Homo sapiens: one gene and its partners. The protein of the gene in region 1 purifies or fractionates together with the protein of each later gene. This does not show direct contact. Each region holds a gene or a part of one and is shown in the gene's direction. Other genes may lie near its edges. The genes, in order: FOXA1, BUD23, SRSF9, POP1, RCC1, SLX9 and VWA8.

What was found.
Region 2: the proteins of FOXA1 (region 1) and BUD23 purify together in Homo sapiens (affinity purification with mass spectrometry, with the first as the bait; 2 studies listed by BioGRID). This does not show direct contact.
Region 3: the proteins of FOXA1 (region 1) and SRSF9 purify together in Homo sapiens (affinity purification with mass spectrometry, with the first as the bait; 2 studies listed by BioGRID). This does not show direct contact.
Region 4: the proteins of FOXA1 (region 1) and POP1 purify together in Homo sapiens (affinity purification with mass spectrometry, with the first as the bait; one large-scale study listed by BioGRID). This does not show direct contact.
Region 5: the proteins of FOXA1 (region 1) and RCC1 purify together in Homo sapiens (affinity purification with mass spectrometry; 2 studies listed by BioGRID and IntAct, with this or other methods). This does not show direct contact.
Region 6: the proteins of FOXA1 (region 1) and SLX9 purify together in Homo sapiens (affinity purification with mass spectrometry, with the first as the bait; 2 studies listed by BioGRID). This does not show direct contact.
Region 7: the proteins of FOXA1 (region 1) and VWA8 purify together in Homo sapiens (affinity purification with mass spectrometry, with the first as the bait; 2 studies listed by BioGRID). This does not show direct contact.

The regions. Positions count from the first base shown.
Region 1 is NC_000014.9:37,588,574-37,592,888, reverse strand, and holds the end of FOXA1 (hepatocyte nuclear factor 3-alpha), read left to right. Parts: intron 1-177; coding exon 178-1,524; 3' UTR 1,525-3,337; downstream 3,338-4,315. UniProt on the Homo sapiens protein: Transcription factor that is involved in embryonic development, establishment of tissue-specific gene expression and regulation of gene expression in differentiated tissues.
Region 2 is NC_000007.14:73,689,601-73,694,217, forward strand, and holds part of BUD23 (18S rRNA (guanine-N(7))-methyltransferase), read left to right. Parts: intron 1-1,315; coding exon 1,316-1,412; intron 1,413-2,995; coding exon 2,996-3,046; intron 3,047-3,728; coding exon 3,729-3,814; intron 3,815-4,023; coding exon 4,024-4,069; intron 4,070-4,391; coding exon 4,392-4,450; intron 4,451-4,617.
Region 3 is NC_000012.12:120,463,650-120,467,554, reverse strand, and holds part of SRSF9 (serine/arginine-rich splicing factor 9), read left to right. Parts: intron 1-1,767; coding exon 1,768-1,928; intron 1,929-3,432; coding exon 3,433-3,605; intron 3,606-3,805; exon of another isoform or gene 3,806-3,905. UniProt on the Homo sapiens protein: Plays a role in constitutive splicing and can modulate the selection of alternative splice sites. Represses the splicing of MAPT/Tau exon 10.
Region 4 is NC_000008.11:98,137,233-98,141,849, forward strand, and holds part of POP1 (ribonucleases P/MRP protein subunit POP1), read left to right. Parts: intron 1-2,845; coding exon 2,846-2,957; intron 2,958-3,536; coding exon 3,537-3,656; intron 3,657-3,964; coding exon of another isoform or gene 3,965-3,972; exon of another isoform or gene 3,973-4,033; intron 4,034-4,617. UniProt on the Homo sapiens protein: Component of ribonuclease P, a ribonucleoprotein complex that generates mature tRNA molecules by cleaving their 5'-ends. Also a component of the MRP ribonuclease complex, which cleaves pre-rRNA sequences.
Region 5 is NC_000001.11:28,522,564-28,527,180, forward strand, and holds part of RCC1 (regulator of chromosome condensation), read left to right. Parts: intron 1-3,794; exon of another isoform or gene 3,795-4,050; intron 4,051-4,370; exon of another isoform or gene 4,371-4,617. UniProt on the Homo sapiens protein: Guanine-nucleotide releasing factor that promotes the exchange of Ran-bound GDP by GTP, and thereby plays an important role in RAN-mediated functions in nuclear import and mitosis.
Region 6 is NC_000021.9:44,970,618-44,974,956, forward strand, and holds part of SLX9 (ribosome biogenesis protein SLX9 homolog), read left to right. Parts: intron 1-2,579; coding exon 2,580-2,648; intron 2,649-4,339. UniProt on the Homo sapiens protein: May be involved in ribosome biogenesis.
Region 7 is NC_000013.11:41,954,182-41,958,798, reverse strand, and holds part of VWA8 (von Willebrand factor A domain-containing protein 8 isoform a precursor), read left to right. Parts: intron 1-4,617. UniProt on the Homo sapiens protein: Exhibits ATPase activity in vitro.

The DNA.
Region 1 (4,315 bases):
CAAGACATCTTTGCTCGGTCTGGGGAGGGCGCTTAGCCATTTGCCCCGGGTGGGGGCGTCCCGTGTTCTGCAAAGTGCTCTGCACTTGCCCCCGGGTTAGGTCCCGGACGGCCGCCCTCCAGTGCCCACCACTAACCCCGCCCTCCGGGGCTTCTTCACTCGCTGTCTCCACTCCAGGCCTACTCCTCCGTCCCGGTCAGCAACATGAACTCAGGCCTGGGCTCCATGAACTCCATGAACACCTACATGACCATGAACACCATGACTACGAGCGGCAACATGACCCCGGCGTCCTTCAACATGTCCTATGCCAACCCGGGCCTAGGGGCCGGCCTGAGTCCCGGCGCAGTAGCCGGCATGCCGGGGGGCTCGGCGGGCGCCATGAACAGCATGACTGCGGCCGGCGTGACGGCCATGGGTACGGCGCTGAGCCCGAGCGGCATGGGCGCCATGGGTGCGCAGCAGGCGGCCTCCATGAATGGCCTGGGCCCCTACGCGGCCGCCATGAACCCGTGCATGAGCCCCATGGCGTACGCGCCGTCCAACCTGGGCCGCAGCCGCGCGGGCGGCGGCGGCGACGCCAAGACGTTCAAGCGCAGCTACCCGCACGCCAAGCCGCCCTACTCGTACATCTCGCTCATCACCATGGCCATCCAGCAGGCGCCCAGCAAGATGCTCACGCTGAGCGAGATCTACCAGTGGATCATGGACCTCTTCCCCTATTACCGGCAGAACCAGCAGCGCTGGCAGAACTCCATCCGCCACTCGCTGTCCTTCAATGACTGCTTCGTCAAGGTGGCACGCTCCCCGGACAAGCCGGGCAAGGGCTCCTACTGGACGCTGCACCCGGACTCCGGCAACATGTTCGAGAACGGCTGCTACTTGCGCCGCCAGAAGCGCTTCAAGTGCGAGAAGCAGCCGGGGGCCGGCGGCGGGGGCGGGAGCGGAAGCGGGGGCAGCGGCGCCAAGGGCGGCCCTGAGAGCCGCAAGGACCCCTCTGGCGCCTCTAACCCCAGCGCCGACTCGCCCCTCCATCGGGGTGTGCACGGGAAGACCGGCCAGCTAGAGGGCGCGCCGGCCCCCGGGCCCGCCGCCAGCCCCCAGACTCTGGACCACAGTGGGGCGACGGCGACAGGGGGCGCCTCGGAGTTGAAGACTCCAGCCTCCTCAACTGCGCCCCCCATAAGCTCCGGGCCCGGGGCGCTGGCCTCTGTGCCCGCCTCTCACCCGGCACACGGCTTGGCACCCCACGAGTCCCAGCTGCACCTGAAAGGGGACCCCCACTACTCCTTCAACCACCCGTTCTCCATCAACAACCTCATGTCCTCCTCGGAGCAGCAGCATAAGCTGGACTTCAAGGCATACGAACAGGCACTGCAATACTCGCCTTACGGCTCTACGTTGCCCGCCAGCCTGCCTCTAGGCAGCGCCTCGGTGACCACCAGGAGCCCCATCGAGCCCTCAGCCCTGGAGCCGGCGTACTACCAAGGTGTGTATTCCAGACCCGTCCTAAACACTTCCTAGCTCCCGGGACTGGGGGGTTTGTCTGGCATAGCCATGCTGGTAGCAAGAGAGAAAAAATCAACAGCAAACAAAACCACACAAACCAAACCGTCAACAGCATAATAAAATCCCAACAACTATTTTTATTTCATTTTTCATGCACAACCTTTCCCCCAGTGCAAAAGACTGTTACTTTATTATTGTATTCAAAATTCATTGTGTATATTACTACAAAGACAACCCCAAACCAATTTTTTTCCTGCGAAGTTTAATGATCCACAAGTGTATATATGAAATTCTCCTCCTTCCTTGCCCCCCTCTCTTTCTTCCCTCTTTCCCCTCCAGACATTCTAGTTTGTGGAGGGTTATTTAAAAAAACAAAAAAGGAAGATGGTCAAGTTTGTAAAATATTTGTTTGTGCTTTTTCCCCCTCCTTACCTGACCCCCTACGAGTTTACAGGTCTGTGGCAATACTCTTAACCATAAGAATTGAAATGGTGAAGAAACAAGTATACACTAGAGGCTCTTAAAAGTATTGAAAGACAATACTGCTGTTATATAGCAAGACATAAACAGATTATAAACATCAGAGCCATTTGCTTCTCAGTTTACATTTCTGATACATGCAGATAGCAGATGTCTTTAAATGAAATACATGTATATTGTGTATGGACTTAATTATGCACATGCTCAGATGTGTAGACATCCTCCGTATATTTACATAACATATAGAGGTAATAGATAGGTGATATACATGATACATTCTCAAGAGTTGCTTGACCGAAAGTTACAAGGACCCCAACCCCTTTGTCCTCTCTACCCACAGATGGCCCTGGGAATCAATTCCTCAGGAATTGCCCTCAAGAACTCTGCTTCTTGCTTTGCAGAGTGCCATGGTCATGTCATTCTGAGGTCACATAACACATAAAATTAGTTTCTATGAGTGTATACCATTTAAAGAATTTTTTTTTCAGTAAAAGGGAATATTACAATGTTGGAGGAGAGATAAGTTATAGGGAGCTGGATTTCAAAACGTGGTCCAAGATTCAAAAATCCTATTGATAGTGGCCATTTTAATCATTGCCATCGTGTGCTTGTTTCATCCAGTGTTATGCACTTTCCACAGTTGGACATGGTGTTAGTATAGCCAGACGGGTTTCATTATTATTTCTCTTTGCTTTCTCAATGTTAATTTATTGCATGGTTTATTCTTTTTCTTTACAGCTGAAATTGCTTTAAATGATGGTTAAAATTACAAATTAAATTGTTAATTTTTATCAATGTGATTGTAATTAAAAATATTTTGATTTAAATAACAAAAATAATACCAGATTTTAAGCCGTGGAAAATGTTCTTGATCATTTGCAGTTAAGGACTTTAAATAAATCAAATGTTAACAAAAGAGCATTTCTGTTATTTTTTTTCACTTAACTAAATCCGAAGTGAATATTTCTGAATACGATATTTTTCAAATTCTAGAACTGAATATAAATGACAAAAATGAAAATAAAATTGTTTTGTCTGTTGTTATAATGAATGTGTAGCTAGTAAAAAGGAGTGAAAGAAATTCAAGTAAAGTGTATAAGTTGATTTAATATTCCAAGAGTTGAGATTTTTAAGATTCTTTATTCCCAGTGATGTTTACTTCATTTTTTTTTTTTTTTTTGACACCGGCTTAAGCCTTCTGTGTTTCCTTTGAGCCTTTTCACTACAAAATCAAATATTAATTTAACTACCTTTCCTCCTTCCCCAATGTATCACTTTTCTTTATCTGAGAATTCTTCCAATGAAAATAAAATATCAGCTGTGGCTGATAGAATTAAGTTGTGTCCAACGGAGACTCATGAACTCTCTTCTCATTAAAAGAGAAACGAAACTTAGCCATCAGGGTAGCTCTGGAGGAGGTGGGAGGAGGGGAGTTAATTCACTCTCGCAGGGGAAGCGTTGTACCGACAGGACATTTTAGGGTAGCCGCTATTTTGCATTTTGTGAAGATTGTTTTAAATTTTGATTCAAAAATGTCGTTCCTAAGAACTTAAAGTTGATAATTTGTTTCCTTCTAAGGAGCTTTTAAATGCAACTTCACACTCCATAGTTGCTTGGGATCACAAAATCATTAATCTCCTTTGATAGCAGGCTCACTTTCCAGTCCACCTATTTCTTTGTAAGTCTTGTTCGGATTGACATCAACAATAACAACACCAGCTCAAGCAGAGGCCTGCCTGCCTGAGCCCTTGTGTATGAACTCCATCCTCACCAGGGCTTGAACTTGGACAGCCTTTACTTTGATCGCCCCACTCCACACCGCGGACAAGATAAAAAGAGCCGTGTGAGTCGCTTAATTATCGCGTAATTGCCTCCCCAGATGAGAGAAAGGGTGCCATGTAGCACTTGAAAAAATCCAGAAATCCCAAACCCCCACTCACTTCAGTTAATGAAAGGAGGAGGGGAGGGAAATTACTGGTTTGAATAATTTCAAACCCTAATTTGGAGACCTCGGAAGGACATCAAAGTCCCAAAGAGAGGAAAAAGCTTCCAATCCCAACAGTTACTCTTATTTACATAAGGTAAACAAATTCAGCTTCCAAATGTAATATAAAGGCGTGGGCTTGGGCCTCGGAATCCCGCCCCCACTGAATCTAAGATGTTTAACTTCTGTGCTGTCCTCTCTGTGATGTTCCCTTTCTCCTTTTCAACGTATTAGAAACATCAGCGCCTTGCCTTCACCCCACCAAGCTTAAGTTGGCCTTAGCTCTCGCTCTGTTACTTGCCGGAGACATTTTCTAGTTATGCGGGGGACGGGGGCACTTTG
Region 2 (4,617 bases), on another chromosome or scaffold:
GAGAGGGTTTCTGAGTGAGGGAACAGTGGGCAGAGGCACAGATGCCGGTGGGAAAGGGGTCTGAGATGAGAGGGATGAACGAGAGATTCCACGGAAGATGGGGTTGAGTGTGGTTGCTTCCTAGAAGGCACTTAAGTGTGTCCTAAGAAGTTTGGGCTTGATGGAGTAGATGATGGGGAGTTGGCAGGTGACGGGATCAGATGTGTGTTTAAGGAAGGTGATTTTCTGGTGAAAGAGGAGAGAGAGTTAGGTGGAAGCATTTGAGCTGGTAGCACTGAGCATTGGTGCGGGGAAGTGAAAGTTGGGAGAGGCTGTGGGACAAGCCAGTGGGGTGGAGGTAGGGCTCTGTGTGTGTACAGCAGGGCGGAGGGGAAGGGCAGGAAGGAAGACATAGTGACTGGTTGAGGTTTTATTTATTTATTTTTTGAGATGGAGTCTTGCTCTGTTGTCCAGGCTGGAGTACAGTGGCACAAGGCTTACTGCAACCTCTGCCTCCCAGGTTCAAGTGATTCTTCTGCCTCAGCCACCTGAGCAGCTGGTATTCAAGGCACATGCCACCAAGCCCAGCTAATTTTTGTATTTTTAGTAGAGACGGGGTTTCACCGTGTTGGTCAGGCTGGTCTCGAACTCCTGACCTCAAGTGATCCACCCATCTCAGCCTCCCAAAATGCTGGGATTACGGGTATGAGCCAATGCACCTGGCTGCTTGAGGTTTTAAATCTGGGGGTTGTAAAGACACTTAACAGGTAGAGTGGAAGGGAGTGATTTAGGAGGAAGGGTGATGGGATGGCTGTGTGTATGTGAGTAGTCTAAAGCCTGTTTCCTTGGATTGGAGGAAGGGAACAAGGAGGGGTGTGTGGGCAGACAGCCTTGACACGGAGGACTTTTCAACTCAAGATGCAGATGGAAACAAGGTGGAGGAAAGGTTTCTTGGGACTATGGGACATAAATGCTGTCCTTCTGTATGTCCTATTTTTCCAGTGTTGTAGAGTCATGACCTGCAGTGGACCTGCACTTTTTTTGTCTTTAAATTTTTAAATTTAAAAATACTTTAAGTAAAGATGGGGTCTTGCTATGTTGTCCAGGCTGGTTTGAAGTCCTGGCCTCAGGCAATTCTGTCTTGGCCTCAGAAAGTGCTGGGATTACAGGGCGTTGAACCACTGTACGTGGCCTCAACCTGCACTTTCTAAGAAGGGAAGCTGTGGGAGGAGGGGTTTCTCTTGGAGAGCCAGGACGGATGATGTCAAGAGGCTTGAAGTGGTTGGGGGAGCAACGTGGATTGCTCCGTTGCCTGACTAGGTCCCTTCCTTTTTAGCATTTCTGCTGTGCAGTGGCTCTGTAATGCTAACAAGAAGTCTGAAAACCCTGCCAAGCGCCTGTACTGCTTTTTTGCTTCTCTTTTTTCTGTTCTCGTGAGTATAAGATCTTCTCCCCATCTGGGTTAGCTGCCTGTCCCTCCCTAGCACTGCAGGTAGAGTGAGGAAATTGAGGTGTCCCATGATGGGTAAGCTACTCATATGGGACCGCATGGGGTGGCAGGACCTTACTGTGGTTACTTCTGTCCAGGTCCTCAGCCTAAATGGAAGTTCAAGCTCAGTGGACTGATATACTCTAATCAAACCCAGAAGTCACTGATACCAAAATCGGAGACCAATTTATTAACTTGTAATAGGGCCTACTTCTGTTGATTGGTATTCCTATGTCTATTGCGCTGAGTTTTAATCAGAAGTTGGTTTGGGGGCATGGACTGAGCAGAGTGAGGACAGAGATGTCGTGTCCGGACCATCCAGAGGGGTACCTTCCAAAGTGCCCACATCCTTCTGACTCCTCACTTATCCCTCCTCCTAGTGCTGATCCTTTTCTTCGGATGAGGAACAGGATAGTTATTTACTGCAAAGAGAGCCTTTATTAGCTTTGTCTTCAAATTAATGATGTTAATTTCAGTTGTTCACTAGGATTAGCTGATAGTCTGAGATTTTAAGTCCTAAAAATGAGTTCTTTTTAAATTTTGTTTTTTGAGACAGACTTTTGCTTTGTTGCCTGGGATGGAGTGCAATGGTGTGATCGTAGCTCACTGCGCCCTCGAACTCCTGGGCTCAAGTGATCCTCCTGCTTCAGCTTCTCAAGTAGTTTGGACTACAGGCACACACCACCATGCCAGGCTAATTTTTTACTTTTTTTTTTTTAAGAGATGGGGTCTACCTATGTTGCCCAGGCTGGTGTTAAACTCCTGGCTTCAAGCAATTGTCTGGCATCAGGCTCCCAAAGTGATGGGATTATAGGCGTAAGCCACTGTGCCCAGCTTAAAAATGAGTCCGTTTTGAAGGATCTGAGTGGTTTTTGCCTCCTTAGCCTGGTCTAGCCCACCCCTAGTTTTCCTGGGGTGGACTGCACCTGCCGATCTGGCCACTGGTCTTTCTTGGGGTGAACTGCCCCTGCTGATGTGGCCGCTGGTCTTTCCTGGGGTGAACTGCCCCTGCTGATGTGGCCGCTGGCCTTTCCTGGGGTGGACTGCGCCTGCCTATCTGGCCGCTGGTCTTGTGTGTCACATGAGTTCTCCTCCTGGCACACTGGGTTAATATTTTAGTTCTGAGGTCCTTTGTGTTTCCTCTTCTCCCTGCTGGAAGGCTCCTCCCTTATATGTTTAAATAGCCAGCTCCTCACTCCATTCAAATCTCTGCTCAAGTATCCATTTGAAACAGGCCTTTTTGGAACCAAAAGTAAACTGAACTGAAAGGAAACTCTGTCACTTTGTCTAATTCCTCTTTTTGTAACAAAGAAAAAATTTGCTACTGTGAATTAGTTGCCTCCTTTACTAAAATGTGAGCTCCAAAGTTCAGGGTGATCTCTTTTGTTCATACTATCCCCAGCCCTAACAATGCCTCACACATAATGGAAATTCAGGAAATACTTGGTGAATGAAGGAAGAGAGGGGTGTCCAGGCCCTAAGCTCATGCAGTCATTTGTAAGACAGTGATGTTCCTGTTTCTTTCAGGTCCGGGGATCCCGAGCTGTCCTGCAGCTGTACCCTGAGAACTCAGAGCAGGTGAGTCCCTCGGCTACTGGGTGTGCCGGGGAGTTGGGGGACTCAACAGGTAAGCTGTCCTGGGGAAGCGACAAAGAATCTTATGCAGATTGGCGGGAAAAGGAGGAAACATGCACCCTAGTGTGGCCCCTGATGGCACATTTGATGACCTGATATCCTAAGGGGGTGGCATCTGCGGAGGTGGGGTGGGATGCCTTCTCTTGGCAGATGACATGGTATTACAGATAAGGTGATGCGACTGATTTCCATAACCAAATAAGTAAATGCCATTTAGGAAGGGTGAGAGGGCACCGACAGTTCTCCGTTGTGTGATGTATAAATTAAGGAATGGCGGAGTAGGATGTAGATGTTGAAAGATAAGTGAAGAGCTGTTCCTGACTAATAACATGAATGACTCTGGATTCCAATTGGTGGCCATCTCCCTAAACTTGAGTGGGGAGCTGGGTCCCTGCACTGGAAAGTGAGAATGAGGGGAGTTGCTTTGTTCTGTAATTCTCCTGAGGGAGGTGTGGGCCATGCCAGATTCTAGCCTGTACTTTTCTCTACGTGGCTTACAGCGACCTTAAGTTCTCCCAGGCAGGATTTGTCCTGGAGCAGACTGGCTTCTGAAGGAGGGGAGGGAGGTGAAGCTGTCTGCTCCTCTCAACCTCCGCTGCCTGACCCGCTGCCTTTCTTTCCTCAGTTGGAGCTGATCACAACCCAGGCCACAAAGGCAGGCTTCTCCGGTGGCATGGTGGTAGACTACCCTAACAGTGCCAAAGCAAAGAAGTGAGCGCTGGGGGCCGGTGTGCTGCCTGGGCTGCAGGAGGGAGGGTAGTGGCATAGCCCTTTCAGGCCACTCAGTGGTGCAGAGGAGTGCTGGGGTGTGGGTCACCAGGGTCCAGGCAGGCGGAGGGGGTGCGGGTGGGGGAGCTGAGGGCTTGTCTCCCTGTGGGGCTTTCTCCACCCAACCCTCACTTTGCACTTTCTCCTTTCAGATTCTACCTCTGCTTGTTTTCTGGGCCTTCGACCTTTATACCAGAGGTGAGGGACACTGGGTTTGCAGGCAGGCCTGTGTCTTTTGACTTCCAGGCAGTGGGGCTCAGCCTGCAGAGCCTGCTGGGAGAACACTGGTGGGGAAGCAGGGCCCAGCCCCAGAGTGCAGACCCTGGAGTGCTCACATCCTCTGGAATCTGGAGGCAGAGACCTCTGCTCTGCAGGTCCCAGAAAGGCGTGTCAGTTCCTTCTCGTGGGACTGGACCTCGTCCCTGTCGGAAGGGTCAGGCCTGGGTGCCTGGGCTTCTGGAGTGGGGCAGATGGTTTGAGAACTCTCCAGGGTGACCTGAGTGCACTTTGGTTCCTGCAGGGGCTGAGTGAAAATCAGGATGAAGTTGAACCCAGGGAGTCTGTGTTCACCAATGAGAGGTAAAGCAACTGCTGAAGCCTGCCCCGGCTGCAGCGGGGGCTGCCACATTTGTTAGACATGGACTTTCTCTCTGCCCTCACCCAAGCCTCTCAGGTCACATGCAGCAGGGACACCAAGGTGACGGTAGAAACATCAGGTCCCATTTGGACTGTGCCTGTTTGGGGCT
Region 3 (3,905 bases), on another chromosome or scaffold:
TTGCAGAATAGTGATTTGAATGCAGGCTAATTTTATTTATTTATTGTATTTATTGAGATGGAGTCTGGCTCTGTCGTGCAGGCTGGAGTGTAGCGGCACAGTCTCAGCTCACTGCAACCTTCGCCTCCTGGGTTCAAGAGATTCTCGTGCCTCAGCCTCCTGAGTAGCTGGGATTACAGCTGCGCGATGCCATGCCCAGCTAATTTTTATCTTTTTAGTAGAGACGAGGGGTTTCACCAGGTTGCCCAGACTGGTCTCAAGCTGCTAACCTCAAGTGATCCACCTCCCAAAGTGCTGGGATTACAGGCATGTGCCACAGCGCCTGGCCTGAATGCTGGCCAGTTTTTATTCAGAGTTGTTCTGACCTCCTAGCAGTTCTGCCTCTCCCAGTCTGCATTTTACGTAGTCAAGGTTGCACTGGATATGGTCATTGTTGCTTTTAGTTCTAAAATCTTACAAGTGATTATGTGCCTGTGACACTGAACAATGCCTTCATTAGCACATTCAGCTCCTCTTGTCCACCCAAGCTCCAAGGTCACACTTTCTACCATCCAATACTGGAGAATCAACGTGGCATTCCTGACTCTCCTAGAGTCCTAGGAAAGACTTAAAGTAATTTTATTGAATATTTATCTCTTTTGGCAAAATTGTATCCAAAGAATGTTTTTTGACAAAAATAGTTCTCCAAACCATGCTGAAAAGGTACACTTAGAGTTCCAAGGCCAGGCGCAGTGGCTTATGCCTGTAATCCTAGCACTTTGGGAGACTGAGGGGAAGGATCGCCTGAGCCCAGGAGTTCAAGACCAGGCTGGCCAGCAGAGGGAGACCTGTCTCTACAAAAAATCCAAAAATTAGCTGGGTGCAGTGGTACACGCCTGTGGCCCTAGCTATTCAGGAGGCTGAGGTGGGAGGATTGCTTGCGCCCAAGAGTTAGAAGCTGCTGTGAGTTATGCTCCAGCCACTGCACTCAGCCTTGGTGACAGAGCAAGACCCCGTTTCAAAAAAAAAAAAAGTTCCACATTCATCACAAAACACTCATTTGCATTTTTCTTTTGTCCTTTGAGCCTTATTTATTTATTTTTTTAAAAGACCGGGTCTCACTATATTACCCAGGCTGGCCTGACCTGGGCTCAAACATCATGCCCAGCTACTTTATTTACCCTCAAATACTCTCCTATCTAACTGGCTACTTTTTTTTTCCTGTTTTTTGGGACAGGGTCTCTGTCACCCAGGCTGGAGTACAGTAGTGTGATCTTGGCTCTGCACTCCCATCTCAGCCTCTCAAGTAGCTGGGACTACAGGCGTGCAACACCATGCCTGGCTAACCGCCTACTTTTTATTTCCATAGACTTTATGGCACTAGGCTTTGTAGAAAAATATTAAGGGGTTAGTGTGTGGTGTGCTTTTCGAGAAAATGCTCACGAAGATTAGAAAAACACTGATGGTTTATTGGCAAAATCAATAATCTGTCAGCAGTTGATTCTTTTTTTTCTCTGAATTAGCCCTCTTATGAGTAATCTGTTTGCTCATTCATTATAATTTCATACCTCTAAAACTGCGTGTGACAGCTGTAAAGGTTAATTCCAGTATCATGAAACGTCTCCAAACCAAAGCAGAAGTGCTTCAGGATCCTGATTTGTGTGTTTTTTTCTTCACTCTAGGTTTCCCTTTTATGCTTACTACTCATGCCCCTCACTTGGAAAGTCACTTGGCCTCCTGAACAGCACTAACTCCAAACGTTTTTTTTGTTGTTGTTGTTTTTTTTAGAGATGCAGAGGATGCTATTTATGGAAGAAATGGTTATGATTATGGCCAGTGTCGGCTTCGTGTGGAGTTCCCCAGGACTTATGGAGGTCGGGGTGGGTGGCCCCGTGGTGGGAGGAATGGGCCTCCTACAAGAAGATCTGATTTCCGAGTTCTTGTTTCAGGTATGTTCCTTTCAAACAGAATGAGATGATACATGTAAAATACTTAACACAGAGTCTGTCTTCCAAGAAATGATAGCTGTTATTCTTCAGTGCATGGGACACGGGGGCTTTCTTTTCAATAGCCTGTGTGAAGCCTTGCCCTGGATTGCCAATGAGGAAAGTATCCTGCAAATGAAATTGCGCTGGGAGTGCAGCCTTGGAAGAACATAACCATATTTCTTGTAAAGGAGTTTTCTAGTGGTGAGAAGGAAAGATGATGGGAAAACTTGAGCTACAATTCTAAAGATGCTTCTTTTGGAATATACTTGGCATCAGACATGGTAGAAAGGCATTCAAGGAGCCAGATTTGAACAACTTACCCAGCCTTGGATCCTGAAGAAGATCAGATTTTGTGGTGGTTTTAGAATTAAATATTTTTTAAAACCCCGTAACTTAAGAGTCTTAGAGATTTTATTGGAAAGTATAGACTATTTCTGTCTAGTGTTTATAAGTGATGAAATGCTAAACTGGGAGGTTTATCTATCTTCAAAATATTAACACACTGGAAAGACCTGGGGCCTTCTGCATATTGCATGGGAGTTTTAGGGCCCTGGTGGAATGAAATAAATCGAGGAGCCTGGCACCTTTTTAAGATGTGAATGTCACACAATCACAGCATACTCCCATGTGCTTAAGAGTGATACTCTCAGTATCTGCCTATCTTGTGTCCCTTTGTAATTTTTTAACCCCAGAACTCTATTCCCTCCTTCAGGATGTCATACATTATCTTTTTTTCTCTCCATGCTGCTCTGAAATCCTGCTTAGAAAACTATTAGGAAATGGCTGCAGTCCTGAGCTGTGAGCGGTAAACACAGCCTTTGAGAGCAGGAGCACATTTCCCTTTCATGACATCAGGTAGGGTTGTATGACTCCCGACTAGTTTTAGCATCTGAGTCTTACCTTCCCCCCCACTGTATTGAAGAATGTTGGTGATCTTTTAAGAGGTACTCTGTATAGTTTGTCATTCATACCTACAAGAAAACAAACTTTAGATTTTTTGTTGTTGTGTTGTTACCTTCAGCTACTCTTTGGTTATTTCATGTCTGGTTTCAAAATTCCCATGTCCTGTGAAACCCTGTCAAGCAATAAATAATTGGTACTGTTAAATTTCATAATGGAAAAAATTGGAACTCAAAGTATTAGGAGTTTGGCATTGATTTTAAAGGACAAAGAAAGAGGCTATGAATTCTCAAAGATACTAAACCTGTAATGGGATGGACTTCTTGCTCTGTTGAAAAGGCCTGGTCTCTGGAAGATGAACTTAAAACCAGCTTCTCAAGGTGGTTCATTTACCACACATACTTCAGTGCTCTTTTCTGATTTCATGTCCCTTATCAAGGTTTATGATTTGGGGACCCTCAGGATTTAAGTGATCATGGAGAAAGGACCATAGGTATTGCTGGCTCTTAACAGGGCAGTTAACATAGCTGAAGGATGTGGGCTTTCTTATGTTCTCCATGCCTAGGACTTCCTCCGTCAGGCAGCTGGCAGGACCTGAAGGATCACATGCGAGAAGCTGGGGATGTCTGTTATGCTGATGTGCAGAAGGATGGAGTGGGGATGGTCGAGTATCTCAGAAAAGAAGACATGGAATATGCCCTGCGTAAACTGGATGACACCAAATTCCGCTCTCATGAGGTGGGTCCTTGCCTTCTGTTGAGGAGCTTGTACTCAAATCACTCCACTTGAACCTGACCTAGCAGAGGTAGCAAGAGGCCATGCCATTTGGTAACCTCACAGTACCATAAGAGATCTATCTTAGGTGGACAAAGCCATGGAATTTGCTATGCCTAAGTCCTTCAGGGTCATAGCTGAAAGAAGTATGCATTCATGGTACGTTTGTTTTTTAATATGCTTTATTCTGCATATTAGTATCACATTACACAGTTTGGTCATGGTATTTGTAACCTGGAGAGAATACTAGTGCAGTCGGTCTTC
Region 4 (4,617 bases), on another chromosome or scaffold:
AGGGAGTCTCTAAAATCCCTGAAATTGTGTGCCAGATTTTGTGATGTGTGCGTGTGCCATGTAGGTTTTCTTTTCTTTTTTTTTTTCTGAGATTGAGTCTCATCCTGTTGCCCAGGCTGGAATGCAGTGGTGCGATCTTGGTTCACTGCACCCTCTGCCTCCTGGGTTCAAGCGATTCTCCTGCCTCAGCCCCCCGAGTAGCTGAGACTATAGGTGCACACCACCAGGCCCAGCTAGTAGAGACAGGGTTTCACCATGTTGGACAGGCTGGTCTGGAACTCTTGACCTCAGGTGATCCGCCCACCTTGGCCTCCCAAAATGCTGGGATTACAGGCATGAGTCACCGCACCTGGCTGGTTTTCTGGGGCTAGTTTTAGGGGTCTAGAATCTCTAAAAAGGTTAAGAGCAGTATGTCTAGGGCAGCACTTCCAGTAGAGCTTTCTGTGAGGATGATGTTCCTTTGTGCTGTCCAGTACGACAGCCATTAGCCACATGTGGCAGTTGAATACTTGAATTGTGGCTAGAGTGACTGAGGAACTGAATTTATACCTTTACTTAACTTTAATTAACTAAAAATTAAATTTGAGTAGCTCTATTGGCAAGTGGCTAGCATAGAGACTAGATTAGGAATCTGCACCCTGGGTTCAGATCCTGTTCGTTTTCTGGTCTTAGTGCAATTAACTTTTCAATGCCTGTGCCTCTCACTGACTTGACGTGGTCAAATACGATGATAGAGCTGAACAGATTCTGAGTTTTTAGAAGAAAGATGCTTTAAAATACAAAAGCTACTTTTCTCCATCTTCACTGCTTCTGCTGTACTCTCAACCAGTGTTGTCTCTTGCCTGAACAATTGGGGGATCAGGAAAGGATTCTAGAGGGAACCTTAAGTTTCCTCCATCCTTCCTCCTTTTCAGCCCATTCTCCACACAAGAGGCAGAGTGATTTTTTGATAATTTATTCCCTCTTGTTGCTTCCTGATGAAAAGTTTTTGAATAGCTTCTCATTGTAATTAAGATAAAATCCAAAGTGCTCAATGTGACCCGTGTAATCTTGTGCCTTCTTGCCTCTGAGGCCTCATTTCTCCTCACCCTTCTACACTTCAGCCACCCTGACCTTCTTTCAGGTTCTGGAATGTCAGTTCTTGTCTCCCTTAGAGCCTTTGCACCTGTTTTTTCCTTCCAACTACTGAGCATTCTGCCTCCACCACTCTTTACTTTGCTGAACCTTCCTCATTCTTCAGATTTCAGTCTCTAGCATTTCCCTCTAGCATCCTTTCCTGATCCCCCAAGTTAAACTAGATCCCTCCTGTTGTTTTCAGAGAGAGCATCTTGCAAATTCCCTCAATTTATTTATATAGATTTGTGTATTTATGTAATGTCCATGTCTCTCATGAGACTGTGAGCTTCATAAGGGTGAGGATAGAGTTGGTCCTGTTTTTCACTCTCTCCCCAGTGCTTAGCACAATGTCTGGCACAGAGAGGGTGCCCCGTAGTAGCTAATAAGTTGTGGAGCAAAGATTTGAACCAATGAAGTTTGGTTCCAGAGCCTGTACTGTAAACCACTAAGCTGTGCTACCTGAGTTTCTGTGAGTAAATGGTACCTTTGTTATGATTGCTTTTTTTTTTTTTTTTTTTGTTTGAGACAGAGCCTCACTCTGTCACCCAGGCTGGAGTGCAGTGGCACAATCTCAGCTCACTGCAACCTCCACCTCTCAGGTTCAAGCAATTCTCATACCTCAGCCTCCCGAGTAGCTGGAATTACAGGTGCCAGCCAACACACCCGGCTAATATTTTTTGTATTTTTAGTAGCGGTTTCACTATGTTGGCCAGGCTGGTCTCGAACTCCTGGCCTCAAGTGACCCGCCTGCCTCGGCCTACCAAAATGCTGGCATTACAGGCATGAGCCACTGCACCCGGCCATGATTGCTTCTTTAGGATCCGTAAGTGCACATCCTACTTCAGTGAACTTCAGCATGAGTTGTGGCTATAGATTCCCTTCTTGCCATGCATGTGATACTTGAAGGACTTTTTGAAATCTTCCTCAATTCCTAGTTCCATGTGGAAAAAATATACATTTCTAGGAATAATGTAGTAGTAGTATATCTTTTATCTGGAAAGTTCTTCAAAAGGTACTGGTTTGATTTTCCTTTGGTGAGGAACATTTTATTGCTTACATTGGAGATGATGAAGTTAGCTCTAGTGGAAGAGGACCAGGCGTGTGGCTCACACCTGAAATCCCAGCTCTTTGGGAGGCTGAGGTGGGTTGATTGCTTCAGCCCAGGAATTCAAGACCAGCCTGGGCACCATAGTGAGACCATATATCTACAAAAAATAAGTTAAAAAAAATTAGCTGGGCATGGTGGCATGTGACTGTGGTTCCATCTCCCAGCCACTTGAAAGGCTGAAGTGGGAGGATCACTTGAGCCTGGGAGATTGAGGCTGCAGTGAGCCATGACAGGCCACTGCACTCCAGCCTCAGTGACAGTGAGACTGTGTCAAGAAAAAAAAGAGAGAGGAGCGAGGCCTCCTTTGTTGGTACTGCGCTCTGGAGAGACTTTGAGTGTGAAGTATCTTAGTGAGTTAGTCTATGAAAACCATAGATGATTTTCTTCATATGTGAAATCTTGAGAGAAGTGTAATACTATATCCTTGCTGCTAATTCAAAGGGTAGTTAGTCTGGTATTAATTACTATGTTAAGTATAGTGGCAACTTCCCTGGTTCATCCCATAACACATACATTTCCACACATAGAAGAAGAAAGAGTGGGGGCTGATATCACAACCATGACAAAATTATGAAGGTGGATTCATTGTTCGTCCAGTGAATAGTAGTTGTTATTTTTCAGGTGGGAGAGGACACAGAGGAGACACCTCACCGCTGGTGGATAGAAACCTGTAAGAAACCTGACAGCGTTTCCCTTCATTGCAGACAAGAAGCCATTTTCGAGTTGTTGGGAGGTATACAAAGGGAAGACTGGGTTGTGTTGGGGAGGGAAGGGGGCCAAAAGAGCCTTTTGCAGTTGGGCCTCCAACATGTAGTATTGCTTTTTAACCTGCTGCTATTGTGACACAGCAAGAGAACCAAGTAAGAGAGGGACTGAACTCAGTGAATAAACACTATATTCATGCCTGGTTATGAAACAACAAACAAATGGTATGTTCATATTCTAAGTAACTGGCATTCTGATAGTGGAGATAAATGCATACACCAGGTACTGACCTAAACTCTATGCTTACCTGCACACAACTGCATTTTTGCTCATAGCTGCTGTAGTTATCACTGATAGAAGCATATGTGTTCATTTCATAAAAGAACCTTTTTTTATGTTGGCCTCATGTTTTTTGCAAGAAACCTCATTCTTTATGAATGTTAACTTATTCTCTAAAAGTATCAATGGGAAGAGAGGGAATACATGTTTTTAAGTAATTAGTCCAAGAAAAACGTTTCATTAGGAAATCTGAAAGATTTAAAAATACAAGCAAATACAGATGTATTATGAATGACTTTCTGTAAACTTCTTTTTGTTGTTGTTAAAGGAATAACATCACCAGCAGAAATTCCGGCAGGTACTATTCTGGGACTGACAGTTGGGGATCCTCGAATAAATTTGCCCCAAAAGAAGTCCAAAGCTTTGCCCAATCCAGAAAAATGCCAAGGTAAAGTTCCAAAAACACCCCAGGTTTTCCTTACTATTTCGAGCAGTCCAGTCTTATTAGAAGAAGAGTTCTTTCTCTGACACCTCTCCAGTAACTTCATCTGTAAAAAATTAGGGCAGTCTCCTTACCTGCCCACTTTACAAGCTGATTATGATCTAAGGAAATGGTAGGTGTGGAAGTGTCTTTTAGCAGTAAAACACGTAGCCTGATACTTATGTTCATTTTATTTTCCGAGTTCTCTTTTTTTAGTATCTAGTAAAACCTGTCTCTCTGCAAACTACGTTCTCTGAAAATGTCTGGCGTTTCAGAATTTTAATTGTGAGGAAGGGATCTGCACCCGAAGCTGGTCTTGTGCTCAGTGGAAGCCTCTGTCTGACCATACAGATGATCCAGGTTCGAATCCTGGCAAGGCCATCCCAGGTGCTGAAGTATAAGATGTCTTGGTTTAGACTAAGTAGTACTAGAGGCCTGAGAAAGTTGTTTGGCTGGGGTGGCACAGGAGGTGGGTAAGGGGCTGGCTAAAATTTTGTTCTGATATGAGATTGGCAGCAATTTTGATAATGTCTCATTGTATTTACTGTCATTTAAACATGATTAATTGGAAGAATAATTAAAATTACCATGTGAGTCTTTGGAGATAAAGTAAAGGTTTGTGTTGTAACGACTTCAGAATTTTTTTTTTTTTGAGATGGAATCTCGCTTTTGTCACCCAGGCTGGAGTGCAATGGATGGCGTCATCACTGCAACCTCCACCTCCTGGGTTCAAGTGATTTGCCTGCCTCAGCCTCCTGAGTAGCTGAAATTACAGGCATCCACCACAACGCCTGGCTAATTTTTTTTTTTTTTTTTTTGTATTTTTGGTAGAGATGGGGTTTCACCATGTTGGCCAGGCTGATCTCAAACTCCTGACCTCAGGTGATCCACCCACTTCAGCCTCCCAAAGTGCTGGGATTACAGGCAT
Region 5 (4,617 bases), on another chromosome or scaffold:
TTGGGAGGTCGAGGTGGGAGGATCACTTGAGCCCGGGAGTTTGAGACCAGCCTGGGCAACATAGTGAGACCTTGTCTCTACAAGAAAAAAAAAAATTACAAATTAGCCAAGCGTGGTGGTACATGCCTGTAGTCCCAGCTACTCTGGAGGCTGAGGCAGGAGGGTCGCTTGAGCCTAGGAGGTGGAGGTTGCAGTGAGCCGTGTACGTGCTGCTGCACTACAGCCTGGGCAACAGAGTGAAACCCTGTCTCAAAAAAAAATAAATATATATATGTATATATATACACACACACATATTTATTGATCACGAATGACTTGGAGAATGAGAGGAGGGGATGAGGGTGGGGACCGGAAGACCAGTGAAAAGTTGCTGTCTTTCCTAGGGAAAGGAGGAGGAGACACAGTTCCAGGCAAGCTGAGAGACTACTAGGGAGCATGGGGAGGAAGGAGGCAGAAGAAATTTCTTTTTTTTTTTTTTTTTTTTTTGAGACGGAGTCTTGCTCTGTCACCCAGGCTGGAGTGCAGTGGCGTGATCTCGACTCACTGCAAGCTCTGCCTCCCGGGTTCACGCCATTTTCCTGCCTCAGCCTCCCGAGTAGCTAGGACTACAAGCGCCCGCCACCACGCCTGTCTAATTTTTTGTATTTTTAGTAGAGACGGGGTTTCACCGTGGTCTCGATCTCCTGACCTCATGATCCGCCCGCCTCGGCCTCCCAAAGTGCTGGGATTACAGGCGTGAGCCACCGCGCCCGGCCAGAAGAAATTTCTAATAACACTCAAGGACGCCAGCTCTGGAGTCTGACTAACTTGGTTCAGATCTTGGCCTTCTCTTCCAATCTTGAGTGAGATACTTCACCTTTCTGAGCCTCAGTTTTCTTCTCTGTAGAGTGGGATCATTGTGGCCAGCTTGTAGTGAAACGCTCCAGAATATTAGCCAAACACAACTAAGGAGATGTTGACTGGGTTTGTTCCATCCATGATAACAGATTTTTTGGTTAATGCCCCATGACACCAACACTTCATATAGCCCTTATGTGTCTGACTCCATTCCGGGCTGTGCTCATGGCAGCCCAGCCATCAGCACCAACTGTGCTGACATAATTGTTTCCTGCTTTTTCTCCTGACTTCTTATTGTGAGTACTTTTCATGCTAATACAGTCTCCCTCCCAGGCACAGCAGACTGCTACAGATTATTCTGATGAACTGATGAGATGTTTGCCTTGGCATACAGCTGTCTATCTAAAACAAGGGTGCCTCTTTTTTTGGTGGAGGGACAGAGTTTCACTCTTGTTGCCCAGGCTGGAGTGCAATGGTGCAAACTCGGCTTACCACAACCTCCACTTCCTGGGTTCAAGCGATTCTCCTGCCTCAGCCTCCCGAGTAGCTGGGATTACAGCACGCGTCACCACGCCTGGCTAATTTTGTATTTTTAGTAGAGATGGGGTTCCTCCACGTTGGTCAGGCTGGTCTCGAACTCCTGACCTCAGGTGATCCACCCGCCTTGGCCTCCCAATCTGCTGGGATTACAGGCGTGAGCCACCGTGCCCGGCCACAAAGATGCCTCTTATATCCCACATCCCTACCCCATCTAACTTTGCCTGCCTGACATCCTTTCTGGGATGGCTCCCAAGCACTTCAGATTGAATGAAAACACCTAGCAACATGGAGCTTCACGTCTCTTCTCTCCTGTTTGTTCAACAGTGTTCTCTATCTCACTACATGGAAGTCTACCATCTACCTGGTCATTTAAGCCCAAGCCTGGGAGTCTTTGTGTTTGGCCAAGCTCATAGGGGGATCTTGGGCAGGCCTGCCAAGAATCCTCTGGACTTTTTTAGGATGAACAAATCAAGCCAAGTGCTGTGGCACGTGCCCATGATCCCAGGCTCTTGGGAAGCTGAGGTGGGAAGATCGCTTGAGTCCATGAGTTCGAGGCTGCAATAAGCTAATTGCACCACTGCACTCCAGCCTAGGTGACAGAGTGAGACCCCCTCTCTTAAAAAAATAAAATAAAAGGCCAGGCATGGTGGCTTACACCTATAATCCCAGCACTTTGGGAGTCCAAGGCTAGAGAATCGCTTGAGCCCAGGAGTTCGGGACCAGCCTGGGCAACATGGCAAGACGTTGTTTCTGCAAAATATACAAAAATTAGCCGGGCGTGGTGGTGCACACCTGTAGTCCCAGCTATCCAGGATGGCTCAAGCCCGGGTGGTTGAGGCTGCAGTGAGCCATGACCATGCCACTGCACTCAAGTCTGGGCAGGACCCTGTCTCAAAAATAAATACAAAGGATGAACAAATTATGAGAGTAAAAAAGGGTTAGTCTCCTTTATCCTTGCTACACCTCCTCACCCAAAGCCAAGCAGTAGTGTAGCAGGATAAGCCGCAGACAAAACCCCCCAGACACCCAGTTAAAGAAGGAAGGGCTTTATTCAGCTGGGAGCTTTGGCAAGATTCACGTCTCCAAAAACTGAGCTCCCCGAGTGAGCAGTTCCTGTCCCTTTTAAGGGCTTACAACTCTAAGGGGGTCTGCATGAAGAGGTCGTGATTGATTGAGCAAGCAGGGGATATGTGACTGGGGGCTGCATGCACTGGTTATCAGAACGGAACAGAACAGGACAGGGATTTTCACAGTGCTTTTCCATACGATGTCTGGAATCTATAGATAACATAACCGGTTAGGTCAGGGGTCGATCTTTAACCAGACACAGGTCGCGGCGCCAGGCTGTCTGCCTGTGGATTTCATTTCTGCCTTTTAGTTTTTACTTCTTTGGAGGCAGAAATTGGGCATAAGACAATATGAGGGGTGGTCTCCTCCCTTAGTAGTAAAGCACTATAAATATTTGTGGATTTACAACCATTTCATTCAGTCTTGATGACAGCCCTGAGAAGTAGTCATTGCATCCCCTTTTATAGATGAGGATACAGTTCAGAGAGGTTAAGGCAACTGGCCAGCCACAAGCTCTGGAAGGTGAACCCAGTTCCCTCTAATCCCAAAGAATGTGCACTTTTTAGTGTGGGACAAGGGGTCTCAAAAGACAGGTGGGAGGATTCTCAGCCCTGGGAGAATAAAAGTTGGGTGAAGTTCAGAACTGCCACCTCATCAGTCAGAACTGGGCCAGTGACAACCTGCAGAAGCTCAGCCTGCAAAGGCTTATCAGGATTCTAGACCTTTGGTTACTTTCCCATCTTTAGTATTTAGTTCTCCTTCCCCAGGATAATCAGCAGAAAAGTGCCTGGCCTTGTGTCCATATACCATGGAGGGGAGAGCTAGAGAGGCGAGGTTCTCGGGAACCACTAGAAGGAAGGAATGAGGGGGCTGCTGGTTAGGCCCAGAGCTGAGACCGAGAAGGGCTCTTGGAGTTCTCCTTCCCTTCGTAACATTAGGTAGAGGCTTAGACAACTTGATTGTTTTTCATGACCTTAAAGACTGTGGCTCCGGCCGGGCATGGTGGCTCACAGCTGTTGTAATCCCAGCACTTTGGGAGGCTGAGGCGGGTAGATCGCTTGAGCCCAGGAGTTCTAGACCAGCCTGGGCAACTTGGCAAAACCCTGTCTCTACAAAATATATAAAAATTAGCTGGACACTGTGATGCGCACTTGTAGTCCCAGCTATTCTAGAGGCTGAGGTGGGAGGATCACCTGAGCTCAAGAGGTCAAACCTGCAATGAGCCGTGATTGTGCCACTGCACTTGAGCCTGGGCAACAGAGAGTGAGATGCTGTCTCAAAAAAACAAACAAACAAACAAACAAAAACAAGTACTTGATGACTCCATTGGGGTCAATTATGAAGAGACCTCTTAGTGCAAGACCAGGACCTTCTAACAGCACACCGAAGTCTCGAGAAATTCGCTTAGTTAAATCTGACAAGGGTGCGATGTTTATGTGGCCCAAAGCACCATTCTTTCTTGGTGTATTTATCCAGGCAAGACGGCTAAAGTGGGAATCCACTGAGACTGCAACAACTTCAAAGTTCACATCGTGAAATTCCTTAGCTTTGTCACTAGAAGCAACAATTTCTGTAGGACACACAAAGGTGAAATCCAAAGGATAGGGCTGGGCGCGGTGGCTCACACCTGTAATCCCAGCACTTTGGGAGGCTGAGGTGGGTGGATCACCTGAGTTCAGGAGTTCAAGACCAGCCTCACCAACATGGTGAAATCCCATCTCTACTAAAAATACAAAAATTAGCCAGGCGTCGTGGCAGGCGCCTGTAATTCCAGGTACTCAGGAGGCTGAGGCAGGAGAATTGGCTTGAACCCAGGAGGGGGAGGTTGCAGTGAGCCGAGATCGTGCCACTGCACTCCAGCCTGGGTGACACAGCAAGACTCCGTCTCGGAAAAAAAAAAAAAAAGAAAGAAATCCAAAGGATAGAAGAAAAGCACCAAATATTTCCCCTCAAAGTCATCAAGGCTTAGGTCTTTGAACTCTCCATTGACCACGGCTGTACCCTTAAAATAGGGCGCATGCTGGGTGACATCAGGTGCATGGTATGAGGAACTGGTACCAGAATTTTGCTTGACCGGAACCAGACCACAATATGTTTGTCAAACTTGTTCTTCCAGAAGCAGCAGGCCTGAGGGCTGCAGTGGCAGAAATGCCCCCAAGGAATGGCACTCAC
Region 6 (4,339 bases), on another chromosome or scaffold:
GGTCCCGGCAGGCAGGTCTGCCCCACTGACCACCACTCTTGGACTCTGATGTGCTTTGGGCTTGAGGGGTCAGCAGGCGAGCACCAGTGGCCTGGGAGGCTGGAGGGTGGACAGCCTCTCCCTCCCAGCCTGGAGCTCTGTCTCTCACTTCTCCCCTTCCCACCTAGTGGGGAGAACATATGGCTTGGGCTGGCAGAGCTGTCCTTGTGGAACCCAAGCATTGGGTCCTTGCCCCACGGCCCCTCCCAACCCTCAGTCCCCTCAGTCCCCTCCCAACCCAGCTCCCTCAATCCCCTGTCCTGGCGCCCTGCCCTGAGGGCCTCATGCCCCTGGGGTGCAGGATGCAGAGCTGGAATCTCAGAGGCCAGGGCAGGGCCCGTGTTTGGGGTCCACGTCACTCCTGGCTGGGAAGCAGGCATCGAGCGACACTTGACTCCGGTGACCCCCATGCTCTGGACCTCCACCTCCTGTGTGCGCTTTGTGGGCAGTTGTCGGGAGGGGACCCCCCATGCTGTGGACCTCCGCCTCCTGTGTGCGCTTTGTGGGTGATTGTCGGGAGGGGAGTGGTGGTGACGCCGCTGCTCCTGCCTGGAGGGAGTGCCGTGGGGGCTGGTGAGGGTCCACACTGGGCGGAGTTAGGCTCCAATTCCTCCTCGGCTTCCTGCTGTTAGGCCTCGTGGAGTCGCGTCCCTGCCGGTGCTTGCCCTTGGCCCATGACGGTAACCGCCCAGCACTCTGTCCCCGGGGCCCTGAACTCCGGAAACCCCACTGGGTAGGCTGTGCGTCCCGCCTGGGAGGATGGGGTGTGGGACGCGTGGGTGGGGGACGGTCCCCGCAGTGGGGAGGGGAGGTGCCGCGCCTGGCCTCATGGGCACTGCAGCCACCCTGGGTGCAGCTCCTCTGCTTTGGGACCTTGGGAGGCATTGGTCCCACCCCCACTGCTAGTTCATCTCTTAAAGTGAGGGTGCAGCTCCAGGGCCCGAGGTTTCCCCAACCAGGAAGGATGTCCTGGACCCGGGCTCAGGTCTCCTGACCCAGCACGTGGCTGCCCAGAGCCCTGGCACCAGGGTGCACCTAGAGGAGGGGCCCCACGCTGATGGCTTCTGCAAGGATGGGGACCGGGGACAGCTCTGGGCAGTCAGTGAGGGAGCTGCTGCTCAGGGGTGGACACAGGGAGGGGGTCGGCTGGCCAGGGGGGCAGAGCTTCTGCATCGGGGCAAGGCTGGCCCAGGAGAGGCCGTGGGGAGATGTCGTCAGCCCCGGCAGAGCCCCTGCAATGAATGGAGCTGTGGCTTTGAGCGGGCAGAGGGGACGGGAGATGCGAGGGGCTGTCATCTGCCAGTGTGAGCAGGAAGGGATGGGGACTGATTCCTTCCCCAGATCAGCGCAGAGCTAGGGTTAAAAGAAAGCGGGTGCTGAGGGCTATTTTGGGCAGACACAAAATGTCTGTCATTCATATTTTAAGAGATCCATGAATAAAAGATGAAGTCTCCTGGCCCGAGGCTAAGTGTAGGGCTGGTCTGAGGACTCTGCGTCTCTGCCTTCCCGCCGTCGTCTGGGTCCCATCTCACTGTGTGGACGGCAGATCTGAGAAGGCGCCTGGTGTGGCCTTGCGGGTTCTCTGTTCCTTTTAAGGCCCAGGTCGCTGTCCCATGTGAACATTCGGCCAGGTGGGCGGCTGCCTTGGCCGGCTGACCACAAGGAGTGCAGGCGAGCTCCCGAAGATTCCCACGGTTAACTGAGGGTGAGAAGCTCCGCGGGCAGCCGGAGCCTGCCTGGGGTGGACGTCAGAGATGAGAGTGTCCTGGCCCGCCCGTGCCCTTAGTCAAGGCCCAGCTTGGTGGTTTGGAGATCCCAGGACTAAAGGAAATAGCCAGCAGCACTCAGGAAACCTCCTCAGTTCCTCCACCTGTCCATGGGGGACTGCAGTGCTCGTTGGCACCCCCCGCAGGTGCAGGCAGGGCAGGATCTACGGTGGGTCCACGCCCCTGTCCCCAAGTTCAGTCATCAGGAGGGCAGGTGCAGCTTCCCACTGTAGCACAGCGTGCGCCTTCTTCTAAAGAGAGGACCTGGGGACATGTAGGCTTGGGTGGGTGACTCAGCCTTCCTGGGAAGTGGTGTGTACTGCGGGAGTGGGACTGGCTGTGCCTGCCAGGGTCCTTTGGCCCGAAGTGTGAGGTGTCTGCGCAGCCTGCCCTGGCCAGGCAGGTGGGGTGGAGACGCTGTATATCGTGAGACGTGTTCCTGGCTGACCACTCCCTCCATGTCCCATGGAGCCAGGAGGAGCTGCAGGAGTCACCAGATTCCACACGGAGCAGCTTGGGGCCCGCGGTCACAGGACGGTCAGGCAGTTGCACTGCTTGTCCGGGGCGGTCACAGGACGGTCAGGCAGTTGCACTGCTTGTCCAGGTCTCGCCTCCATGGCCACAGTGCAGCTTGGAACTTGTGGTTCTGCAGTGGTTTGGTCACCTCTGGCCACCACGACGTCTGCTCTAAGAAGGGAGGAGCCAGCCTCTGCCCACGGGAAGGTGTTTAGGGGATGCTGGATGCTGACTCACGTGGCTTCTCTGTGTCCACAGCAGGGAGAGCAACAAGCCCCGGCCCTCAGAGCTCAGCCGGATGAGCGCAGCCCAGAGACAGCAGCTTCTGTGAGTGCACCTGCCCACCTCCTCAGGGGTTCAGCTCCTGAGTGCCCTCACCCTGCCCACCCTCTCCAGGGGTTCAGCTCCTATGTGCCCTCACCCCGCCCACCCTCTCCAGGGGTTCAGCTCCTGAGTGCCCTCACCCCGCCCACCCTCTCCAGGGGTTCAGCTCCTATGTGCCCTCACCCCGCCCACCCTCTCCAGGGGTTCAGCTCCTGAGTGCCCTCACCCCGCCCACCCTCTCCAGGGATTCAGCTCCTGAGTGCCCTCACCCCGCCCACCCTCTCCAGGGGTTCAGCTCCTATGTGCCCTCGCCCCGCCCACCCTCTCCAGGGATTCAGCTCCTGAGTGCCCTCACCCCGCCCACCCTCTCCAGGGGTTCAGCTCCTATGTGCCCTCGCCCCGCCCACCCTCTCCAGGGGTTCAGCTCCTGTGTGCCCCCACCCCGCCCTCTCCAGGGGTCCTGAGTGCCTCCAGCCTGCCCTCCCAGGGGTTCAGCGGCTGAGAGCCCCGCCCGTGCCTCTAGTCCCCTCCACGCTGCTCCGCTGGCTCCTGCCTGTCTGCTCCAGGGGGGCTTTTCAGTGCAGTCAGGTCCTGTGGCCCTGGGTCAAGTCCCGCCTCCCAGGAAGGCTTCCAAGGGGAGTCATGGATCTAAAATGATGGGTGGACGCAGCCCCATCTCCGCCCCTCCCCTCCGCTGGCTGGTTGAAATCTGGATGATACGTTTGGTTCTGTGACTGGGCACTGCGGCCCCCAGTTAGCAGGGCTAGGACACTGATTTGCAGAAATTTGTACTCAGTTGTCCTCTTGGGTACAAAAATCTCCAGACCACGCACGCTCTCTTGCCTCTTTGCAGACTCAGCTCCAGTTTCCACTGAGAGAGCCACATTTTACGCCCTTGTAAGATGGTTTTAGTTAGCTGCTGGGATGATTTTTCCTGTGGTTTGAAATGGCTTTACTCAGGTGTTTATCAGTGGGAGCGTTTTGTGTCAGTTCTACCGAGGCCCATTGTGCCTTTCCAGTTGAGAGTCTGAAGTCTGTTTTGTGAGTTCGATTATGCTTAGAAGCTGCTGTCTGTTTTGTGAGTACAGTTATGTTGGGAAGCTGGTGTCGAATGGTAGCTCCAAAGATTTCTTTATTGTCTCGGCCCTTCTTCAGGGGCACCAATTATGCACTTACTGGATCTCTCTAATCTATCTGTCTTCCATCTCATGTTCTCTAATCCATTTTTACTCTAGACACTTTGTAGGGTCTAGGTGAAGTATAGATAGTATAGTAAACTGTCTTTTTTAGTTTTTTAAAAAGTTTTTATTTTTATTTTTTAGAGACAGTTCCTTGCTCTGTGGCCCAGGCTGGAGTGCAGAGGTGTGATCAAGGCTCACTGCAGCCTCCGCCTCCTGGGCTGCAGCGATCCTCCTGCCTCGGCCTCCTGAGGAGCAGGGTCTTCCCGTAGATCTTTGTGTTTGTCCTCTTTGGTTTCTGCTTCTCTGTTTATGAACTGAGTTCTTCCCAGGCCAGTCTTGTCTGGAGACAGTTTGCGAACAGCAGAGCCCTCTCCGTGTGGCCATCGTCCTGCCTGGCCTCCCTCTCCGCCTCTCCCCAGTGCACAGCCTGGTCCGGGGAGCCCCTCCCTGCCTGGACAGGGCGACGGGTTTTCCTCTTGCAGACTGTCTGTCGCCCGCACCCCTCGGTGCCCC
Region 7 (4,617 bases), on another chromosome or scaffold:
TTTAAATCAGTCATTTACTCTGGCAGGATCAGACCAAAAAGAGGTATTTTTTGAGGGTGTGAGAACTGTAACTGAATGCAGCTGGGAACCCACCAGAGATCTGGACTTGAGTAAGAGCAGTTGTGAGCCAGGTAAATGGACAGCACACTTTTGGCTACTCTGAGGCCTGAGAGTAAGGCTATCAAGATGGAAGTGTCCCATTTTGAATCAGAGATCATACATGGACAAGTGTAAAACTACAAATAGCAATAGGCCATAATGGATTACATCTTATGTTGGGATGATGCTCTCAGCTGCATTCATACATGTGACCAGTAACTGATTATCTCCTCTCTCTGTAATTGACATTGCTTCCTAATAGTTTGAAAAAAGAACAACAAAGTTCATAAATAATATATTTAAGTTATATACTGCTGTTATTTCTCCTGGAGTATTTGTTTTGTTTATCTATATATTCGTTTGGTGCCTGCCAACACTTTGTACCTAGTAAGCATTCAGTGGCTTATTTTGTGAAAGTTCATACAGAGAAGGAGCAGGAGAGGCTGGAATTGTCGTTTGCTCTCAAGAGAGGACCTTTGTTAAGCCTGATAAGCAGAAGGAAAATAGGTCATTTATGTTAAAAACAAAACAAGCAGATAAACTCAACCCAAACCCACTGCTTTTTATCCTGTGCTGTCAGATAGTATAAGTATCTATAATTGTAAATTCTTTATATCTCTTTATACTTCCATTAAAATTACTGTCTCTTGGTTTTAAGAGCAAAGAGGTTAACAAGGATATCTACTGCAGAGAGTTTTCAATAAAGATTATTGTAGTGTTTTTACAGATGGAGCCAAGCAAGTTGTTTCAGTGGGACTCTGATGTTAAATGGATTCAAATATACTATAGATCAAATGATAAACCTAGAAACATAACTGTATAAATATATCATGACATTTTGGTGCTTTCCTTTAACGCCATTATTATTAAAGGGATTCACAGTTTTTTCTTTATGACTCTTGTATATGAAGTAAATTTGTTTATAGAAATACCCTAAAATACTTTTACACAGCAATCTATGTTTATTATAGAAGAGTGATAAGTACAGATTCCCTAAAACATGATCCTCCCACCCAAATTTATAATTATCAACTTTTTAGCATTAATCCTATCAGATTACATATATATGTATAATTATTTATTTATTTATTTTTGAGATGGAGTCTTGCTGTGGCACCCAGGCTGGAGTGCAGTGGAGCAGTCTTGGCTTACTGCAACCTCCACCTCCTGGGTTCAAGCGATTCTCCTGCTTCAGCCTCCCAAGTAGCTGGGACTACAGGTGTGCACCACTGTATTAATCTGTTCTCACACTGCTATAAGGACATGCCAGAGACTGGGTAATTTATGAAGAAAAAGAGGTTTCATGGACTCAATAGTTTCGCATGGCTGGGTAGGCCTCACAATCATTGTGGAAGGCGAAGGAGGAGAAAAGTCACGTCTTACATAGCGGCAAGTAAGAGAGCTTGTGTACAGAAACTCCCCTTTATAGAACCATCAGACCTCGTGAGACTTTTTCACTACCACGAGAACAGCACAGGAAAAACCTGCCCCCATGATTCAATTACCTCCCACTGGGTCCCTCCCATGACACATGGGGATTATGGGAGCTAGAATTCAAGACAAGATTTGGGTCGGACACAGGCAAACCATATGAGCCACCCCAGCTAATTTTTGTATTTTTGGTAGAGATGGGGTTTCACCATGTTGGCCAGGCTGGTCTCGAACTCCTGACTTAAAGTGATCTGCCCATCTTTGCCTCCCAAAGTGCTGGGATTACAGATTTGAGCCACTGTGCCTGGATGATATGTATATTTATACAGATACATTTTTTTAAAGAAATGGGATCATGTATGTTTTATAATTATTACATCCATTATTGTGAACATATTAACATGGTAATAAATATCATTGTACATGATTGTTTAAAGTAGTTATTAAGTTTATATGTTTGTCCATATAATTTATTTTACTGTCTCATTCTTGCACATTCATGTTGTCTAAAATATATAAACAATGCAATAAACATCCATCTACATGAATTTTTGTTATTTTAAGATTATATCCTTGGGCTACAATAGGATTAGATAGAAATAACTTTGAGGAGGGGAAATATAGAACTGTGGCTTCAACTGAGAAATACAGTGTAAAGAGGAAAGAACTATACTGTGGTTTTGGTCTAAGTTTTGTATTTATCAGGTATTGAACCTTGGGGAAATTATTAACTACTTTAAACCTGCAGCAGGTTATTTTGACCCTGAGGATATTCTGACCCCATTGTGTATTCAAGAATTTAACAGAAAGGCTCAGAACAATGGTAAGCTTATAAATCATTAGGCAGATCTGCATTAGGGGCACATAGACTAGTGTGGGAATTGCTGATATATTTAGTTTTCTCTTGGGTCTAAGTTTAGTATATATAAAAATGATGACACTAACCCAGTAGTTCTCAACCCAAGGTGATTTCTCCCCCTCAGGGGACATTTAGCAATGTCTGGAGATGTTTCTTTTTGGTTATCAGAACCAGGAGGGAGGGGTGCTACTGGCATCTAGCGGGTAGAGGCCAGTGATGCTGCTAAACAGTCCATGACACACAGGACAGCCCCTCACAACAAAAAATTATCTGGCCCAAAATGTTCATAGGGCCGCTGTTGAAAAACCCTCATGAAACCAACTTCTTTGTCAAAGCTACTGTTAGAAACTTTAGACTCACTAAACTTAACAGAATTTAAGCACAGAACAATTTGTGAATTGGGCAGTCCTCAGAACCAGAATAAGCTCAGAGAGCTCCATTCTGAAACGTGAGCAGGCAGCATTTATGGACAGAAAATGGAAGTCAGGTACGGAAACAGCTTACTTGGCTATAACTCAGTGTTTGCCTTACTTGAACACGGTCTCATCAGTTGGCAGCCTGTGGTTGACCCAAGCTCAGCTGCTCAGATTGGCTAAGACTCATCTATTTGTTACCAAAGTATACTCCTAAGTTCCGGTTTCAGTTAATTTACATACAAAGTTATGTTGCAATTCATTACATAAGGACTCCAAGTACGGAGGCATCCTTAGACCAAATTTGGTTGAATTTAACAATTTGCCCCTTTGGTTAGCTTCTCAATTTTGACAGATTCACTGAAACTTTGGGCATTGTTGCCACTCTCTGTCACCAACTTAATGGACTTACTTGGTCTCATTATGGAATTTAAAAGCCATGATGTCATATCAGTTGAATAATTCTTTATGTTCTTGCTGTTCTGGTCAAAGTGAGACCATTGAATGCTCAATGAATGGCTGCATACAAACATTTAAGACTTGAGAGGATATGGTGCACCAGAAGGGCTATCATGAAGAATCTCAGGATAATAATAAAGACTGTAGTGTACTTCTTAACAGGAGCCCCTGTGAACTGAACCAATCAGAAATCCAGCAAGGTTCAGGCACTTTAGACACTTCAATAGTATTTGAGTCTAGTTCAAGTAAACCCACAGTTTACATGAAGAAAGGCATACATTTGCTTCTTTTGCCTAAATTATGTTACCTGTTGTCTTATAAGTATTCTTATTCCCCTTTAGAGAGTAAACTACCTCACTTAAATCATTATAGATGGCTTGACTTATAAGCACATTAGTAGGTGGGATGTTTTCAAAGGAGAAAACATTACAGCTTAAAAACAATACTTAAGAAAAAATTTAAAATTATAATTATTCATTTGTCAAACATTTATTGAATATCTGGTAGGTTTCAGGTATTGGGGATAAAATGATGATTAAAACTTAGGCCTTGCACCAAGAAAAAAAGAGTCCTGTAGACTAAACAGTAGTCTTCAAAAATTTTTCTTATTTATCTGCTAGGAGGATTTTAAAAATATGTATCCCTTTGAACATTTTTAGGTTAATAGCTAAAGTTTTCCTGGTAAGTTTAAATAGTTGCAAACGATGACATTTCCAGTATGTTGTAAATATTGGCATTTAAAAGAAAAAATATTACAAATTCTGAGTGTATCTTTTAAGTGGAAACAGAATATTCTAGTAATTTAGTACAAATTCTGAGTGTATCTTTTAAGTGGAAATAGAATATCCTATCTCTATTTTGGAAGTAGATAAAAAGCTCTTCTTTAATTGTTAGAAAATGTCTCTTATCTCCTTGAATTTGTATTTCCATTACAGAAGCATAAATCAGATCCTGTGCTAGCAGAAAGACTAATGGAGTGATCAATTTGTGCTAGAGGAAAAGTTAGGGAAGGTTCAATGGGGAGATGAAGATATTTCAGTAGTAGTTGTGTAGAGGGCAAGTGGTGTGAGAGAGATGTGGAAGGTCTTCTAGGCTGAGGAGATAAAGTGTTAGTCACTGAGATAGGAATACAAGAGGTGGAGCTGGTTAGAGGTGGTTAGGCGCACACAATGGACAATATAGAATTCTGTTTCTGTGTGTTTGTTGAGTTGTCTCTGGAATATCTAGGTAAAGTCTCCAGTAGGCTACTGGCAGGTATGAAACTCAGGAGAGAGATCTGAGCCAAAATAGACATTTAAAGAATTAGTTGTATATGGTGTTTGAAGAGTACCCTTAACTGAAAAAAAAAAAAAGGTT